Linked DNA regions of Homo sapiens: all the other regions are linked to region 2. A link means that fine-mapping ties the variant in region 2 to the expression of a gene that starts in the linked region. Tissue or cell type: left ventricle. Region 2 holds a variant in brackets; each other region holds the start of a gene. All regions are shown on one strand. Distances are from middle to middle.

Region 1 (2,621 bases), 54 kb before region 2:
AAATTTCATAAAATTGAGAAGAAACTTTCCTAAGGTGCACACATCTTAAAAGAGTATGACTCGGTGAATTTTTTACATATACATACACCTGTGTAACCACCGCAGAGCAAGACAGAATATTTACAGCACCCCAGTTTCCCACATCACCAGGGATCACTCACTATTTGGCAGTACTTATTTTTTCCCAAAAATCACTAATACACCAGGCTGGGGAAAAAACCGAGAGTCCGTTTCTATAAAAAAAAATTTGAAAAATTAGCCAAGCGTGGTGCAGCGAGCCTGTAGTCCCAGTTACCGAGGAGGCTGGGGCGGGAAGATCACTTGAGCCCAGGAGTTCCAGGTTACAGTGAGCTATGATTGTGCCACTGCACGCTAGCATGGGCGACAGAGGGAGACCCTGTCTCTAAAAGAAAAAAGAAAAAAAAATAATTAAAACACACCAGTGCTTTGGAAGCACTTTAAATCCTGGACATTGGATTCAGGTCATTTACTGTCCGACCTCGTTATTCCCAGTTTCCGCTTCTGCCCTGAACCCCACTTCACAGGGCTGATTGCTAGGCTGTCTACGCTTGTAAGAATTCCTGGGAGCCCTAGCACGGGCGCATACACTCCTAGCAAATCGTTCCCTTTCTCACCCGCACCCTCCGCGCCCGAGTGAGCCTACCTCGCTTACAGCTGGTTGCCGGCCATTGCCTCCGCCACCAATGACGTCCCCAGGGGCGGGTACGCCTCCGCTTCCACCTCCGCCACTTCTCCGCGCCCCGCCTCCGCCCGCGCCCCGCCTCCGCCCGCGCCCCGCCTCCGCCCGCGCCCCGCCTCTTTCCCGCGCCCCGCCTCTTTCCCGCGCCCCGCCTCAGTTCCCGCCCCCTCTCCCGGCGCCCCGTCTCCACTCCCGCCCCGTACCTCGTTGCACAGACTCCACCCACTTCCCCAAGCGCCGGGGTTTGCGCAGCGGCGGAAATGGGCAGGGCGGAGCGAGCGCTGCGGCTAAAGCGAAGGCGGGGACCCTACCCATCCCTAGTCCTGTCGGCTCCTCCCACCCCGGGTCACGCCGTGACAGGGGCGGAAGCGGCGGCGGCGGCGGCGGCCGAGAAGAGGCTGGGGCTCGCGGCGCGGCTGCAGCCGTCCTGTGCGCGCGGCGCGCGGCTCCGGAGAGGCGCCCGCAGTCCAGGGCGGCGCGCACCGCCTCGCTGGCGCTCAGAGGTGGGAGGCTCCCCACTCCGGGGGCGTGCGTGGGGGCCGTGGCGGATTTCGGGTGACAGCGTTGCACAAAGCAGCTTGGTTGGGGTGCAAGCCCTCCCTTTCCCCCTGTGCAGCGCCCCTCGCCGTGGTGGGAGGTGGGCGGGTGCCCCAGGGACGGATACCTCCTGCCCCGGATTAAAAGAGGGTGCGGGGTGGGTATCTGTCTGAAGAAGGGGGAATTCCCGGGCTAGGGTGTTGGGGCGTGGGGTCGCCGGGTTCGTCGCGATGTTGCCGGTCGGCTAACCCCCCTACAATGTTTCCTTTCTGTACAGCGGTGCCTTTTCCCCGAGACTCCCGGCACCTCTTCAGCGCAAAGGTGAGCCCCGGGGCAGTTGCTTCTCCGACTTCGAAAAGCTTCCGAAAGCTTCTCGGAAAGCGAGGCGGCTGCAGCTGGCACCGGGAGTTTGGGGCTCCCTCCTGGGGACTGTCAGAGCCGCGGGAGAACCCCACGGTCCTGGAGTAGGAACTCCCTCGCTTGTTCTTCCCGGCCGATAGGGTGCGGCCAGGAGCCCGCACAGCCTTGCAGGTGTTGTAGTAATTCTCTGGCACAGCCACCACGCGTTGAGACTTGATGAGCATTGCCAGGTTGCTGGGGTAACTCCTCTGGGATTGGAGACCTGGAGGAGGGGTGGCCCGATTAGGGTAGCTGTTAGTCAACGGCCGGGCAGCTGACAGGTGAAAGAGGAAGGAAGAGGCCGACCCAGCTGTAGAAAGTTGGGGTTCAGTGATGTGGAAACCAGCCACATAGAAGTCCAGTCTTCCCTTGGGTAAGCCTGCAGGACTCCCCAGTCCACTCCAGTTGGGGAATCCCCCACACCACGTATACACACATAACTCAAGGCTTTGACCAGTTTTGTTTTGTGTTTTTAAATCTATTTTAGTGGCAGAAAGGCGAGTGGGAGAGAAGGCTTCTTCAGGAGGTACATGAGAAAATTACCATCAATAATTATTTGCCTTGCTGGGAGAATCAACAAAAGATATCTAGGCAATTGGGGATTTAATATTGAATCATTGAACTGCATGTTGAATATTGAATAATTCAATATTGAATTATTCAATATTGGGAGGCCGAGGTGGGCGATCACTTGAGGTCAGGAGTACTTCAAGACCAGCCTGGCCAAGGTGGTGAAACCTGGTCTCTACTAAAAATACAAAAATTAGCCGGACGTGGTGGCACACACCTGTAATCCCAGCTACTCGGGAGGCTGAGGCAGAAGAATCGCTTGAACCCAGGAGGTGGATGTTGTAGTGAGCCGAGATCGCACCACTGTACTCCAGCCTGAGCCACGGAGGAAGACTCCGTCTCAAAAAAAAGAAAAAATCTTTTTGAATAAGCTGCTTCAGAAAAACCTAGGGATTATTATAATGAAATCTACATA
Region 2 (2,500 bases):
GACTACAGGCACCCGCCATCACGCCTGGCTAATTTTTTTTTTTTTTTGTATTTTTTAGTAGAGATGGGGTTTCACCCTGTTAGCCAGGATGGTCTCGATCTCCTGACCTCATGATCCGCCCGCCTCGGCCTCCCAAAGTGCTGGGGTAACAGGCGTGAGCCACTGTGCTCCGCCCAAATAGAAGTATATTAAAGGCTCTGAGAAGTCCTGCATTAAAGAAATCTATTTTACTTTTATTCTGTGCTCTCCACATTTTTTTAAACCACGGAATCCTTCTTCAGATCAGGAAAGTTCTGTTTTCATCTTGAAATCTTGAAACTATCAGAAGTACTTTCATATGGCTTAAATTTTTTGTAAACAGCTTTATAGTAGGTGAACAGTACAAGGTACTGCTGAATCAAATACCTGAAATCACACTGAGATTTATAGTATTGGAGAATAAAGGTGCCTCCTTGGGGTAGAGGGGATTTAGTAAACCTTGAAAATTTAAGTTTAGTTATATCTTAAGTGACTATGAAAAAATATAATTGATGAACTATCACTAGTTCCTAGACTAGCTATGCTTCCTACACTTCAGGTATCTAAAACTTATTTCATAGTCCTTGATTTTCATACAGAAGTAAAGGACTGCATGTCACATGGGAAAGACAGGTCTAGGGAATGAGTTAGTCGGGGCAGGGGATCCTAACATTATTCCTGCCATTAACCAACTCGGAGATCTTGGGCAGCAATCCCCGGGCTGCACGTCGGAACCACCTGGGAGGCGCTTACAAAGAAAGGCTGGAAAGCCCCACCCTGATGCGTTCTTGTTGAATTGGCCTCGCTTTTTTGTTTGTTTTTTTCAGAGACAGGGTCTCAGTCTGTCGCCCAGGCTGGAGTGCAGTGGCACAGTCATAGCTCACTGTAGCCTCGAGCAACTGGGTTCAAGGGATCCTCTCACCTGAGCCTCCCTCGAGTAGCTGGGATTACAGGCATGCACCACCATGCCCGGCTAGTCATGTTTTTAAAGCTTCTCAAGTGATTCCAGTGTGCAGCCGTGGTTGAGAACCTTGTCTGCAGTGACCTTTTCTGTAAGCTCTTAATAGGTTTTGCCTGGTG[G/A]TAAACAGTGTTTAAAAATACTACCTTTTAAAATTGCAAGTCACCCGACAGTTCAGCCTCTGCTGTTCTGTAGCTCCACTTCTTGGTGTCCAGGACAGCAAGCTGGTTTTAACTCCCCTGCTTTGTTACTCTCTGCCTGACCCTGGCCAGTACTTGTGCGTTTCTGTGTTTGTATTCCAGCCTTCTGGAGAAATTAGGGCACAGCTTCAGGCTGCACTTTGAAATGTTTAAAACAAATATTTTTATTGTAGCTAGCACGCACCACAGTTTGCATTGGAAGTTTCCCCAAACTTGTAAGAGAATAATTTTCAACCCAACGTGATAGACCGATGAACCTCCAGCAGACTAACTCAGTCTAGGCTGCTTCCATTGACATCTCGCTTTTATTACTTACTAGGATGTGTTTATATCATTTGCCTATTTGTTTACCCAAGGCTTTTCTTTCTTTTTTTTCTCTTTCTTTTCTTTTTTTTTTTTTTTTTTTTTTTTTTTTTTGTTTTACAGGGTCTTATTCTGTTGCCCAAGCTGGAGTGCAGTGGTGCAGCTTGTAGCTCACAGCAGCCTCGAACTCCTGGGCTTGAGCAGTGCTCCCACCTCAGCCTCCTGTGTAACTGGGACCACAAGCACATGCCACCACACTCAGCTAATTAAAAATTTTTTTTTTGTAGAGACAGTGTTTCCCTATGTTGTCCAGGCTGGTCTTGAACTCGTGGTCTTAAGCAATCCTCTTGCCTCAGCCTCCCAAAATGCTGGGATTATAGGTGTGAGCCACTGCACCTGGGCTACTCAAGTTCTTATGCTTTTCAGTGCTATTTTGTCATTAAGAAAACATCTAGATTTGTGGGCGTGGGTGGCTCATGCCTGTAATCACAGCACTTCGGGAGGCTGAGGCGAGAAGATGGCTTGAGGCCAGGAGTTTGAGACCAGCCTGGGCAACATGGTGAGACCCTGTCTCTACCAAACATAAAAAAATTATCTGGGCATCGTGCTGCACACCCATGGTCCCAGCTACTACAAGAAGCTGAGGCAAGAGGATCACTTGAGCACAGGAGTTTGAGGCTGCTGTGAGCTGTGATCATGCCACTGCACTCCAGCCGGGGCAACAGAGCAAGACCCTGTCTCTTTAAAGGGGAAAAAAATCTAGATTTTATTTATTTTCTTGCAATTTAATTGGATAGTAATTGGTTTTTTGTTGTGGTTTGCCTCATTTTTTTTGGTTGCATGGTAATTATCTATAAATAGATTATAAACTTCTTGATGATAGAGAGCATATTTTATACTTTATAAAAATATTTTCATGTGGCAGAAAATAGTGACAAAATCAGAGAACTCTGAACTTCCTGTGATCCTAGAATTGAGAGTTAAGCCAAATATACAAAATCTTTGAAGCCTCAGGTAGATT
Region 3 (2,621 bases), 55 kb after region 2:
TTTTGGTAAATGTAAAAATATTCGAAAGTATTCAAATACTTCCGGGTCTAGCCTTATAACTTCAGTCTTAACGGGCTGCACCAAGACCTTACAATAACTTCAAAAGGCAAAAGATGTGTAATGAAAAGGACAAAATTAGAACATCCACTTAGCAACTTCAAAGGTGCACACACACAGGTAAAAAAAAAAATCAAATCCAAGACCTACAAACTTCCCGTCAAATGATGAAATGTTAACGAACGTTTAGAGCGGACGAGAAGTCGGCTGCACTCCAATACATCTCTACCACGCTAACAAATACTTTAAAAACCGGAATACACAAAGTCAATTCTACGCCATCGCTCAAAACAAAAGCAGATAAATTGTGCACACATTCTCGCTGAAAATCACTCCGACTTCACGCCTCTAAACACCAAAAGAGCAAGAAAACTGTTTCCTGGGTGAAAAATACAAAAAAACTTCGGTCTGAAAAATTCATCAGTTGGGATGCGACTCCCCCCACCTTTTTCCTCCTCCTCCTCCTCCTCGTCGTCCTCGTCCTCTTCCTCCTCGCTCTCCTCTCTGGGACCGGGCATTTCGGGTTCTTTCTCGGACGCGGGCTGGGTGGGGGTTCCCTCCCCCTCCGCAGCAGGGGCCGAGGCGGACATGCTGTGAACCTGCATGCGGGAAGAAAGCCGGACGTCTCGGTCCTCCTACTCCCGCAGGCAGGACCGGGCGGCCACCCTGAATGATGCTACCCTTCCCGCGGGACACCTGCCCTGAAAGTTGCCTCCTCCCATAGCCGGGACCGCAGCGCTCAGTCCCCAGGGGCGGCTTCCCTCCCGCTCCGCCGCCGCCGTCCAGGGATTCCCGAGGCGGGAAACCGCGCCCGCTGCCCCGCGTGCGCGCGCGCCCGCCCGGCCTGCGCTGTTCCCGGCCCGGCCCGAGCTGCCGGCCCTCCACGTCCCCTCCCCCGCCCCAGGCCGCCGTCCAAATGGCCGCGTCCCTCCCCCGTCGGCCGCGGCAGGGGCGACCGGGCCTCCGGCGTCCCGAAGCAGCCCTTACCGCGGATTTCGGCCGCCGCGGGCCTGGCACGCGAGGGCACGAGGAGGTTCTGGGAGGCGGCGGCGGCCGACGCCGAGGAGAAGGCGCGCGGGCCGCTGTCTGGCGTGACGCTCGCGCCGCGCGCTCGGCTCCCCAGAATCAACAAGATTTTCAAAATGGCGGTTCGGGAAGGAGAGCGGGAATGCGGCGACCAATCAGGGCCGCGAGCTGGGAGTTGGCGGGCGCGGGGCGGGGGAGGCGGGGCGGCCGGGTGCCTCCGCGGGAAGCTCGGGCGGGCGGGACCGCGAGGGGTCGCCTCGGCCGCGGGCGGAGGGATGCGCGCGCGGGGCTCTCCCCGGCTGCGCCTGGAGTGTGGTCGGCGCTCGGGCCCCGGAGTGCGGGCGGGCTGTGTCCCGCGGGGCGGGCGGGAGCGGGAGGCGAGGCGGCCTGGCAGCGCGGAACGGAAGGACGCTAGGGGGCCTGCGTGTTTATTGTTTCCACGGTCGCTTCCTGGAAAAGATGATGAGCAGTCCCGGGCCGCGGAGGGGCGCGGCGGGCGCGGTAAAGAAGTTTAGAGATCTCCGAAGTCGCTATCGACAGTGTTACTCTGAGGCGGAGGAGAATTAATCAGCGGTCTCATCAATGCTCCAGAAATCATGCTGGGTGATAGATAACTCCCAAATCTGTATTTCTGAGGACCGCATCGCTTGTAAGGTGCACCGAAAGGAAAAAGATCCTACCTGCCACGTTAAAGGTTCACATAGCCAGCCACATAGATTTACACCCCTGTAAATATAAGGGGAGAGGCTCCCTCCCACCCCATTCCTTCTCCTCTCCTCTCTCACACACACTCTCTGTTTTATAATAGAGGAAATATGTTATTTGGCCGGGTCCAGACCCTTCTCCCAGAGTTCTAGGTCATCTATGCAGATGCTTTTTACACATTCAACACTGCAGACACTCAAAGCAGTATCTTCCCTGCTCAATGCTGCCTTCTTTTGTATGTGATTTCCTTTATTTTCTCCCAACTCTTCAACCACTAGCTCACCTGAAGGATCCTTGTACTCAGTGGACTTAATAGAAATGTGATCAGTGAAATTTGCCTGGACTCTGGGTTGCAGGACAAAAATTAGACATTTCCTTTGAATCTTCCCTTTTCCTTTTGTTCCCCTTCCAAAACATACGCGAATAGTGTCATTTCTACCCTCAAACGGTATGCCATTTTCCACACTATTTATCCCACTCAAATCCTATCCACACTCCACAGCTCATCTCTCCTTCTTGCTGCCTGCAACGTGGTTGGGAGTGGGGGGTTGTGTTTCACCCCTATTTGTGTTACAGCTCTTTCAATCCTACCATTTGGCAGGTCCTGAGTTCTGGTCCTGTGTCCAGGAAGAGTGAGGCACGCAAACAACTGGAGGGTGAGCAAGGTGGACAGGAGCTTCACTGAGGGACAGAACAGCTCTCCTGAGACCTGAAGTGGGTTGCTCCTTTCTGCAGGGGGGTTGTCCCGACTAGCGTCCTGCCCTCAGTGGAGAGGAGACCCATAGTGGGCAGCTCCTTTCTGCAGGCAGGTGGTCCTGACGAGTTGAGGAGAC

The links. PIP is the estimated chance that this variant, and not a neighbour inherited with it, causes the effect.
Region 1: KDM1B starts here. The variant in region 2 is fine-mapped to the expression of KDM1B in left ventricle (GTEx, PIP above 0.99). The same link has a PIP of 0.9 or more in atrial appendage.
Region 3: DEK starts here. The variant in region 2 is fine-mapped to the expression of DEK in left ventricle (GTEx, PIP above 0.99). The same link has a PIP of 0.9 or more in atrial appendage.

What each region holds. Positions count from the first base shown.
Region 1 is chr6:18,154,369-18,156,989 of GRCh38, forward strand. KDM1B (lysine demethylase 1B) reads left to right here and starts at 1,054. Exons shown (of 22, transcript NM_001364614.2): 1 at 1,054-1,203; 2 at 1,515-1,558. It overlaps TPMT (thiopurine S-methyltransferase), which reads right to left and starts at 709. Exons shown (of 9, transcript NM_000367.5): 1 at 665-709. RefSeq lists a silencer at 755-1,314 and an enhancer at 1,755-1,994.
Region 2 is chr6:18,208,780-18,211,279 of GRCh38, forward strand. The region is part of intron 17 of KDM1B (lysine demethylase 1B); the gene reads left to right. Among named protein-coding and RNA genes, the nearest start is that of DEK, 54 kb to the right of the region's middle. The variant G/A (reference allele first, on the strand shown) is at 1,099.
Region 3 is chr6:18,263,341-18,265,961 of GRCh38, forward strand. It overlaps DEK (DEK proto-oncogene), which reads right to left and starts at 1,190. Exons shown (of 11, transcript NM_003472.4): 1 at 1,045-1,190; 2 at 503-656. The coding sequence starts at 647. It overlaps LOC124901270 (a long non-coding RNA gene), which reads left to right and starts at 1,192. Exons shown (of 2, transcript XR_007059486.1): 1 at 1,192-1,737; 2 at 2,390-2,621. RefSeq lists an enhancer at 314-865 and silencers at 751-810, 871-1,230, 1,271-1,550.